Regions from separate parts of the Homo sapiens genome. Here region 1 is linked to region 2. Evidence: fine-mapped expression QTL. Tissue or cell type: whole blood. Region 2 holds a variant in brackets; the other region holds the start of a gene. All regions are shown on one strand. Distances are between the middles of the regions.

Region 1 (5,000 bases), 89 kb after region 2:
TGGAAGCTTCAAGCACCAGGAAAAGAGACAGAGACAGACAGAGGCACAGGAGAGCAAAACAGGGTCGGAGATGGAATGAGAAACAGAGGCATAGATACAGAAAGACAGACAGAGAGATTCCCAAAGTAACAGGGAAAGACCAACAGTGACAGAGACACAGAGAAACAGCAACAGAAAGAGAGGGAGAGAAGCAGAGCAACTGAAACAGAAACACAGAATAAGGTGGAGAAAGAAACGCACGATGGGCAGAAGACACTGAGGAAAACAGAACTCGAGAGCATGACTAGTGAAACTAGAGGTTGAGAGACAAATCAGGAAGAACAAAAGAGCAAGAGAAAGAAGGAAAAGAGACTGAGAGTCTAAGGAGAAACTGAGAAACAAAAAAAGAAAGTGTAAGAATGAGGTTAGGGCAAGGGCCTTCTCAGAGTCTCTCTCTCTCTCTCTCTCTCTCTCTCTCTCTCTCTCTCTCTCTCTCTCTCTGTCTCTGTGTGTGTGTGTGTGTGTGTGTGTGTGTGTGTGTGTGTGTGTTTCTCTCTCTCTCTCTCTCTCTCTCTGTTTCTCTCCCCTGGCGCCCTGGCCCCTTCTCTATTCCCTATCCCACACACATGAGGCTCCTGCAGCTCTCGGCTAGGAGCCAAGACTTTTCTACCACCTCAAATCCTACCTGCCTGGAGAAAAGAACAGGGGGCCTGTATACCAGGGCAGGCAGAGGTGTCCAGGCCTGGCAGAGGGACCCCTGTCTTCCCACTGCCTCTCAAACAACAAGGTGACCTGGCTCTGGGCTTTGGGGAAGGGCAAGTCTAATGCCCCTCAACGCCAAAGTCCCTCTAATTTGTATGTCCCACTCCACCACTGGACCATGTAAAAAAAAAGTTCAGGCCCTGGCTCCCCAGACCACTGGGATTTCACCCTCGGCCTGGATCAGGAACAGAAAGCTTTCCCCACTCCCTCATCCTCCCCAACACACACCCCACCACCATCCTCCAGTTCTCTGGCCCTAGACAGCTGACTTAACTGGACCTTAATCTGCCACTCCTGCACCAGCAGCCAGGCCTCCCACTGGGACCCCCTTATCAAACAGACAACCCTTGGAGGTTTGAGATGGAGCGATGGGACAGTCTCCCTTGGTGGTGGCAACAGGCTGCTAGGGACTCGGTAGCAGTTTCCTTGATGAGCCTGTCCCATGCCAGTCGGGCCCTGCCACGTACCTGCCTTCTCTTCAACTCATAGGGGATTTTTAAGGGCCTTCCAGGGCGGCTGGAATGGGGAAGAAGCCGCTGGGAAGGGAGCGCACTCAGGAGGGAATTGGGAGGCCAGGGGTACCTTACCAGAGGGCTGCAGGCTTTCCTGGATGGCCTCGATCTCCGCCAGCTCCATGCACACGCCTTGCCCGTGCATCAGTGTGTGCAGGGGCTTCTCCACCCCTCGGGGCGGGTAGCAGCGCAGGCCCGAGCCGCAACGGGGGGTGTACACCCCGCAGGGCATCCCCAAGCCCAGGGCGCAAGTGGCGCAACAGCCGCAGCCCGGCTCTCGCACCAGCTCCTCGCAGCCCACGGGGGGGCGGCAGCGCGCCAGCTTCTCCTCGGAGCAGGGCGGGCAGTGGATGGCTTCGTCGCCCAGGCTCGGCCCGGGCCCGGCGGCCAGCAGCAGGGCGGCCACGAGGCAGAGGGGCAGCATGACCGCCCGAGGACTGGGCGCGGGCGCGGGGCGCTGGGCGCAGGCGGGGAGCGCGGGCGCGCGGGCGAGCGGCGGAGGGCACACGGCGGCAGCGCCTGGCGCTCCTGGAGGACCCGACCCGGAGGGCGCGGGGAGACGGGGCGGCCCGGCGGGCGAACGGGGACGTAGCGGGGGAAGTTAGCAGGCGTGCCGGAGGGGAGCAAGCCTGGCCGCCGAGGCGCTGCGCCGCATCCTCGGCCCGGCCCAGGCAGGCGGCGGGCGGCGAGGGGCAGGGGGCTGAGCGGCTGCCCGGGACCGGCTCCCCCGGACTTTATACCGGTCCCTGGCCACACCCCCAGCGCCTTCCCAGAGGTGGGGGAGCCGGGGCGGGCGAGGGGGAGAGGGAGAGGCGGCCGTTAGGGGGAGGGGGCGCTGTCCTGAGTCGCCGCCGCCGCCGCCGCCGCATCTGAAAGTCCTTTTCTGCCGAAGAAGGAAGCGGCGCAGTTTGGAAGCTGTAGCAGGCGCCCAGAGTGCCTCTGAACCGGAGCCCCGGAGGGGAGGCAAGGGAGAAGGGAAGCCAAGGGGCTGCTGCGGGGCCCCCTTTCCCGACCTCGGAGGAGTCTCGTCCCGCCCCGCCAAGGCGGCCTCAGTCTCCCACCGAGAAAGGGACTTCCTAGCCCGGACTCCCGGCTCTGCGGATCCGGTCTTCCTGGACAGAGCCCTTTCCACCGCACCCCGGTGCTTCCAGCCTCAACCGCTGGAGACCAAGCCTCCTGAGGTGGGGTAAAGCGTACAGGCACAGCTAGGGGCACAGAAAGGCCTGGAGGCCCTAAGACGTTAACAGGCTCTTGCCACTTGCCCCTTGCAACCTCTCCCGCCCCCGCAATCTCCCCAGGGCGCATTTGGGCCCTGGTCCACCCTGCTTCCCCAAGATGGAATCAGCAGAACTCCCGGGGAGGGAGGTGCCGCCGAGCCTCTTCCTCCTTCTTGGATGTTTGCCTCTCAGGCCCATTCAGACCCACTCGTGGAGGGAGGCAGGCCTGGGAGATTGCCACTTGCAATGTGCAAGTTTTGCGTTGAACAACTCCAGTGGGGCACCATTCCTTGTAATCATTGTGTATTTGTAGAGCTGTTGTGATCATTTCCCAGATGGCAGTGAAGGATTTGAGGGGCCTGCAGCAGTGACTCACACCTGTAATGTCAGCACTTTTGGAGGCTGAGGCGGGAGGATCACTTGAGCCCAGGAGTTCAAGACCAGTCTGGGCAACGTAGTGAGACCTTGTCTCTACAAAAAAATTTTAAAATTAGCCAGGTGTGGTGGCGTTCACCTGTGGTCCCAGGTACTCGGGAGCCTGAGGCAAGAGGATCACTTGAGCCCAGGAGTTGGAGGCTGCAGTGAGCTAGAATTGTACCACTGCACACCAGCCTAGGTGAAAGAAGGAAACTCTGTCTAAAAAAGAAAGAAAGAAAGAAGGCCGGGCGCGGTGGCTCACGCCTGTAATCCCAGCACTTTGGGAGGCCGAGGCGGGCAGATCACGAGGTCAGGAAATCGAGACCATCCTGGCTAGCACGGTGAAACCCCCTCTCTACTAAAAATACAAAAAGTTAGCCGGGCGTGGTGGCGGGTGCCTGTAGTCCCAGCTACTAGGGAGGCTGAGGCAGGAGAATGGCATGATCCCGGGAGGTGGAGCTTGCAGTGAGCTGAGATTGCGCCACTGCACTCCAACCTGGGCGACAGAGCGAGACTCCATCTCAAAAAAAAAAAGAAAGAAAGAGAAAAAAGAAGGCCAGGCGTAGTGGCTCATGCCTGTAATCCTAGCACTTTGGGAGGCCAAGGTGGGCAGATCACCTGAGGTCAGGAGTTTGAGACCAGTCTGGCCAACACGGTGAAACCCCATCTCTACTAAAAATACAAAAATTAGCCGGGCGTGGTGGCGCATGCCTGTAATCCCAGCTACTTGGGAGGCTGAGGCAGAAGAATCGCTTGAACCCCAGGAGGAGGAGGTTACAGTGATCCAAGATCATACCACTGCACTCCAGTCCAGGTGACAGAGCAAGACTCTGTCTCAAAAAAAAAAAAAAAAAAGAATTTTAAGGAAGGGATGCTTTTTTAATTCACCCAGTGTTGCTACTTGGGCTAGTGTTGGGCCTGGCTTGACCCTCTGTAAAATCCTATTGATCCCTATTCCCCCAGCCTTGCCCAATCCTGCCCAAATTGAGAAGAGCCCTGGAGTGGCATTTGGAGCAAAGATCCATCTCCTAGGTTCCCTCTCAGGCCCCCGCTAATTCCCACCCATTCTTCCCTACAAAGGCTTCTGCTGTACTGGAGCTGGTTTCAGGTTAAGCGTACCTGTCCAGGAATAATCAGTAACCCACTGTGGATTTTTTTTTTTTTTTGTCTCGGCCTAGAAAGCTGCAGGTCAGCCAAGCTGAAATGCAGTTCAGAGACCCTCTTCCTGCTTCTTCCCCCAGGACAGGGGTCTTTCAGCCTCACGGGGATTGGGCTACCTCCTACTTACTGAGAGATGATTGCAGGGAGATTGGGACTGGCAGCCGGACCTGCAGGACAGACCAAAAAGTTGCAAACTGACGGCACCTACTGGCAACCATCAAGACTGCAGAAGGGCTGGAAAGTGATGGCTGGGGCCAAGATTCTGGGGTTCTCTCCATTCCATCTCATAGATGAAGTGGGGACCCTTCTGCCCCATATGCCTTGGAGAAGGGCAAACAGAACCAGCTTCCTCAAGTCCCTGGGGAAGCCCAGCCTGTGCCTGATTCAGAAAACTGCCCCCAGGCCGGGCATGGTGGCTCACGGCTGTAATTCCAGCACTTAGGGAGGCCAAGGCGGGTGGATCATGAGGTCAGGAGATCGAGACCATCGTGGCTAACACGGGGAAACCTCGTCTCTACTAAAAATAAAAAAAATTAGTCAGGCGTGGTGGCACGTGCCTGTAGTCCCAGCTACTCAGGAGGCTGAGGCAGGAGAATCGCTTGAACCCAGGAGATGGAGGTTGTAGTGAGCCGAGATCACACCACTGCACTCCAGCCTAGGCAACAGAGCAGGATTCAGTCTCAAAAAAAGAAAAAAAGAAAAGAAAACGTTCCCCACCCCATCTCCTTCCTTGATCATCACTGGACCCTGTTCTGCCACCAACTTGCGTGAACTTGGAGTTTGACTGACCTTAGCTGTAACATGGAGGTAGATCATCTCCACCCATCCTACCTCTTGAAGCTCTTGTGAGAGTAAAATGAATGGAGAAGAGTAGTTCTGCTCCCAATGCCAGACATGTGCCCTGTTCAGCAAGCCCAAGAGGAGAAAAGGTGCCAGGACACAGAGGCAGGAG
Region 2 (5,256 bases):
GGTCTGCTGAGCTCTCACCTCCACTCTGCCTCTGCACTCCACCCCTCCCTTGTCAGACCACTCTGACCTGGGAGGCAGCTCGAGGTTTCCAGCAGAGCAGGGGTAGGGCGGGAATAGAGGAGTGTGTGTGTCTGTGTGTGTGTGTGTGTGAGTGTGTGTGTGTGTGTGAGAGAGAGTGTGAGAAAGTGTGTGTGTGTGAGAGTGTGTGTGTGTGTCCTACATGTGTATACCAATGTCTCACTGCTTTTTATCACTCAGTCTGGTTTTCATTTCTTTAGGGAAGAGGATGGGGCATGAAAGACCAGTGGAAGAAATGGGAATTCCTCAGGCTGAGGGAATAAAAGGTCAGAAAACATCAAAGTTGATGGAAACTGTGGCTTTCATGGCCAAATCCCCTGACTTAGTCCAGGAGGAAACTCCGGCCCAAAAAAAAGGACTTGCTCAGGGAGTTGGGGTTACAGCCTGCACTTCCAAAACCCCACTAATGCTTTTTGTACCAAGCCCTCTGCCCCAAAGCCAGGGAGAGGATAGATCACTCACAGTTCATAGCTCAGCTCAGATGTCACCTCCTCCAGGCAGCCTTCCTTCCCCCTCCACAGCCGCTCTGCCCCTCCTCTGGGAATATGGTAAAAACACTCACTCTTCATATTTACTGAATATTTACCAAGTGCTGGACTAGCACGCCACAGGTTTACTCACCTGTCTGTCTCACCCACTGGATTGTGAGAGGATGGAAACAGATTCTGTCTTGGTCACTGTAGCCTCCCCAGACCTCAGGAGACCCGGTACATAGTAAGTACTCAATAAACAACTGTGGGACTGAATGTCCAAATCAGTGAAAGGATCAACCGAATGGTTATACAAGCTATTCTACATAACAATGTCCTCGTGTGTGCACAGGGCTTTCATTTTTCAAATCACATTAATCACATCGTCTCAGTAGAACCCAGTGAGAGACCCCAGTAACAAGGAGAGTGGTATCAAGTGTATGCCCACATACACACCTGCACACCAGCACATGCAGCTCCCCTCCATGTTTATGTAAGTGTACAGAGACCCATACACCCATGCCTTCCTAGCCGGCAAGAAAGATGCCATGACGTGCTATTTCCTGTTTTGTCTGCAAACATGGAGGCCTCCCCCACCTTCTTCCCCACCCCGAGACACACACACACACACACACACACACACACACACACACACACACACAGCCAGTTTTCCTCTTCAGCTGAAAGAGTGAAAGAAAGCCAGCTGTCCACAAGGGGGCATTCAAGGACCATCCAACTCAATATCTCAAAGCTAAGACTGCTTCTTGGTCTCAGAGAGACGAGATCCCAGGAAAAACTGAAGAACCAGGGTGGGGTCTCACGTGGAAACCCAGAAGAGGAGGTGGTCAGCCACTACAGAAGCAGGGCTGATGGAGATGGAGTCTCCGTCTGAATAATAGAAATGGTAATACCACTCACTCTACATATTTACCAAGTGCTAGTCCCTGGTCTAAGCACTTCACATGTCATGACTCGTTTAATCTTCCTCTCACCTCCTCAAGGCTTAGTGTTGCTATAATTCCTGCTTTATAGATGAAAAAACTAATGACTTAGAAAAATTAAGTAACTTGCCCAGGGTCACTTAGTGGTGAAGGCAGAATTCGAACTCAGGATCTGTTGTCCATAGGTCATACTGTTAACTGCTCACTCTGCTGCCTCGAGGCTGGACTTTCAGACATCCTACTTCTCAGCCCGGGATTCTCTGTGCTGGACTCCACTTCTCACATCTACAGGCCCTTTTGGGTGGTTGATGAAGGACCTGGAAGCTGATTTCCTAAGAGTGAATAACTTGGTGCCCTGAAGCTGACCCCTCATCCACTATAAACTGTCGATGCTGGGTTGGTATAGTGCCTTTGGAAAGCAGTAAAGCAATTACCAGCAAAAGGCATGAAGCTCTTCCTCCCCCTTTGACCCAGTAATCTCTTTCCCTGGGAAATTATTCCAAGGAAATTATCCAAACGAAGCCAAGTGTTATCTGCATACATGTGTGCATTGAAGTCTTTCTTTAAAGGTCAAAAACTGGGAACCACAATAAGGAAGTGGTTTAATAAACTGGGACATCAACACAATGGACAATCAGGCCTGGAAATCCACAGCTGTGTGACTGTGATGGGGAATGGAAACATGGAGAATGCTTCTACTACACAGTGTATCACCACTACACTCCCACCTAACTAGCTAATTCAACAAATCACGCTTGTCAAGGAGAGAGAAGTCTCTCTGTTCATGTTCAAAATAAACTCAGCCTCTGACACCACAAAGGAACAGAAGAGAAGCTTAAATGCAACAAACACAATAAGCTCAATAATTCTTGGCTTTTGAGTTTCCAAGGCCACAGGTCCTGATGATGTATGACATTTTCTGAGAGTGATTTTGATGATTGGTTATTGATGATTTTCACCTTTCACACTGTACTTGTTATTAAGCCATCTAATTCATCATATTAAATTTTGTTAAGATACCTGGTGTGGTTTCTGTTTTCTGGCCAGACTCTGATACATACACAGACCATGGACCCTGATGAATGATATCTCCCCCATAATGATAAGTGATTTTTTAAGACTTCAAAATTAGTGCACCCACCATGATTTCAACTTATACAAATGTATACTTAAGGAGGGTACAGGTATGGCTGGTCTCCTCCAAATTATACTTTGTACTAGTTGCCTCTTGATGCATAATAAAGTACCCTAAAGCTCAGTGTCTTGAAACAACAACTTTTATCATCTCACAGTTTCTGTGGGTCACAGATCCAGGTGCAGCTTAGCTGAGTCCTCCACTTCAGCACCTCTGCAGGCTGCAGTCAAGCTGTCAGCTGAGCTGGAGTCATCTCAAGGCTCAATTGGGGACCCAATACCAAGCTTACTCGAGTGGTTGCTGGCAGGATTCAGTTCCTCGTGGACCACTGGATTCAAGGCCCCGATGCCCTTCACTGCCTGTGCCCTCTGTTCCTCAGCACGTTGGCCGTTCCATGGGGCAGCCTCCAACATGGCAGCTGCTTCATCAGAACACATAAGAAAGAAGTCTCGAAGAGTGTGAGCAGGAGGGGAGTCCCAGTTTTGTATAGTCTAATCTCAAAAGTGACATTCCCCCACTTTTACCATATTTTACTCATTAGGAGCAAGTCACCAGGTCCAGCCTACACTCAGGGGAGGGGATTACACAAGGAC[G/A]CGTGGTATGCCTACCACATACTTGAACATTTATAGCATCTTCTCAATAACAAAAACAGTATTTTCTCAAGTTACTTGTCTAATATGGAAACTTTCTAAATCCGTTGGTAAATGCCCACACCCATTTCTCTCAAGCAACAGCCCCCTGGTCCCCCTGGTCCCCCGCCCCCACCAGACTTAGTGGAAAGTCCCTGCTGGGTGAGTGAGTGGCTTTTTGCCAGATTGGGGGTGGGGTGGGTGGCAGGATGGAGGCAACATGGGCACCTTCAGAGATCAAACATCAGAGGAGGGAGGCAACTCAGGACTCGCCTTTGAAAAAGGTTCAGTTGGTGCCTGCCCCAGGCCATTACCATTGCTTTAGGCTGAATTCTTAACCAGCCCAACAAGGCCTGGCCAGATGTGGCTCCGCCTGCTTTCTCCAAGCTCAACTCGCCTTTCTGTTCGCTCTCCACACGCTAACCACAGTGGCCTCTTCTCTGGCCTCAGACAGGCCAGGCTCTTCTTCTCCCATCAAGGCATTTGCTATGCTCTTTCCTCTCCTGGATCCCCACCCTGCCCCCCAAAGCCTCACCTGCCTGACTCCTACTGAGCCTTCAGACCTCTGCTTGGACAGCGCTTCCTTGCAGGGGGCCACCCCCAAGCCTCCAGTCTCGGCCAGGTCCCTGAGCTACTGTGATTCCCCTCCCAGGAGATCTCTGATTCCAACCAGGAATAGCATTTCCAACCAGCCCTTAGGCAATTTTTACAATAGGGCAAGTTTGGGAGGCACTGCCCACCGTCTTCACAAGCTCACATGGCACCCTTCCCTCTCCAGTTCCACTCAGCACACCTAGAGCTGATGAGTTAGTTCTGCCCTGTGGACCCCTGCGGGCCAGGCCCACATGTGTCTTGCCTAAGCCCAGTAGGGGTGAGTAGGTAGGGGGAGAGCAGGCTGGAGGGAGATGGACAGGCACTGCCAAGGCAAAGGTGGGGTGGAGCGAATGAGCACTTTGCTGCTGAGATGGGCAGAAGAGAAGCTTAGCTGGGCACTGTTGGGGGAGGCAGGTGCCACAGGACATCCAGGTCCCACTGAGAACACTCAGGATGCTAAAAGACAGTCAGAGATCCAGGACGAGGGGAGATCTTCCAGTGCTCCTACAGTCACCAGGCAGAAAACCATGACCCTCAGGCTCTTTCTGGGATAGTGTAGGCTGCTCACAGCCCAACTGCTCAGGATTACAATGGCGGAGATTGAGGTTTAGGGTTGTCAGGTTTACCAAAGAAAAACACAGAAGCCCTGTTAAACTGGAATTTCAAATAAAAAACAAATACTTTTGTAACATAAGTATGTCCCAAATATGACTCAGGTGTCCCATATTTTAGCTGGCAATCCTGCCAAGGTTATGAGTTGATGCTAAGGCCCCAAGGCTAGGGTCTATGATTATTCCAAGGGTTTCCTGGAGACAAGAATAAACTCAGGGCCAGGCACAGTGGCTCACACCTATAATCCCAGCACTTTGGAAGGCCAAGGTGGGAGGATCACTTGAGGCTAGGAGTTCGAAACCAGCCTGGGCAACATGGCAAAACCCTGTCTTTACAAAAAAAAAAAAAAAGTTAGCCAGGCATGGTGGTACACACCTGTAGTCCCAGTTACTCAGAAGGCTGAGGTAGGAGGAACCCTTGAGTTTGGGAGGTTGAGGCTGCAGTGAGTCATGATCACACCACTGCACCCCAGCCTGGGCAACAGAGTGAGACCCAATCTCAAAAAAAAAGGGGGGACTGGACACAGTGACTCACGCCTGTAATCCCAGCACTTTGGGAGGCTGAGGCAGGCAGATCACTTGAGGTCAGGAGTTCAAGACCAGCCTGGCCAACATGGCAGAACCCCAACTTTACTAAACATACAAAAATTAGCTGGGCATGGTGGCACACGCCTGTTAGTCTCAGCTACTTAGGTGGCTAAGGCACAAGAATTGCTCGAACCCAGGAGGCAGAGGTTGCAGTGAGCCAAGATTACGCCACTGCATTCCAGCCTGGGCAACAGAGTGAGACCCTTTCTC

The links. PIP is the estimated chance that this variant, and not a neighbour inherited with it, causes the effect.
Region 1: IGFBP4 starts here. The variant in region 2 is fine-mapped to the expression of IGFBP4 in whole blood (TOPMed, PIP above 0.99).

The regions. Positions count from the first base shown.
Region 1 is chr17:40,440,413-40,445,412 of GRCh38, reverse strand. IGFBP4 (insulin like growth factor binding protein 4) reads right to left here and starts at 1,963. Exons shown (of 4, transcript NM_001552.3): 1 at 1,329-1,963. The coding sequence starts at 1,677. RefSeq lists silencers at 1,757-1,806, 1,817-1,866, 1,877-2,066 and an enhancer at 4,113-4,162.
Region 2 is chr17:40,529,498-40,534,753 of GRCh38, reverse strand. LOC107985090 (a long non-coding RNA gene) reads left to right here and starts at 280. Exons shown (of 2, transcript XR_001752884.2): 1 at 280-344; 2 at 1,675-2,508. The variant G/A (reference allele first, on the strand shown) is at 3,218.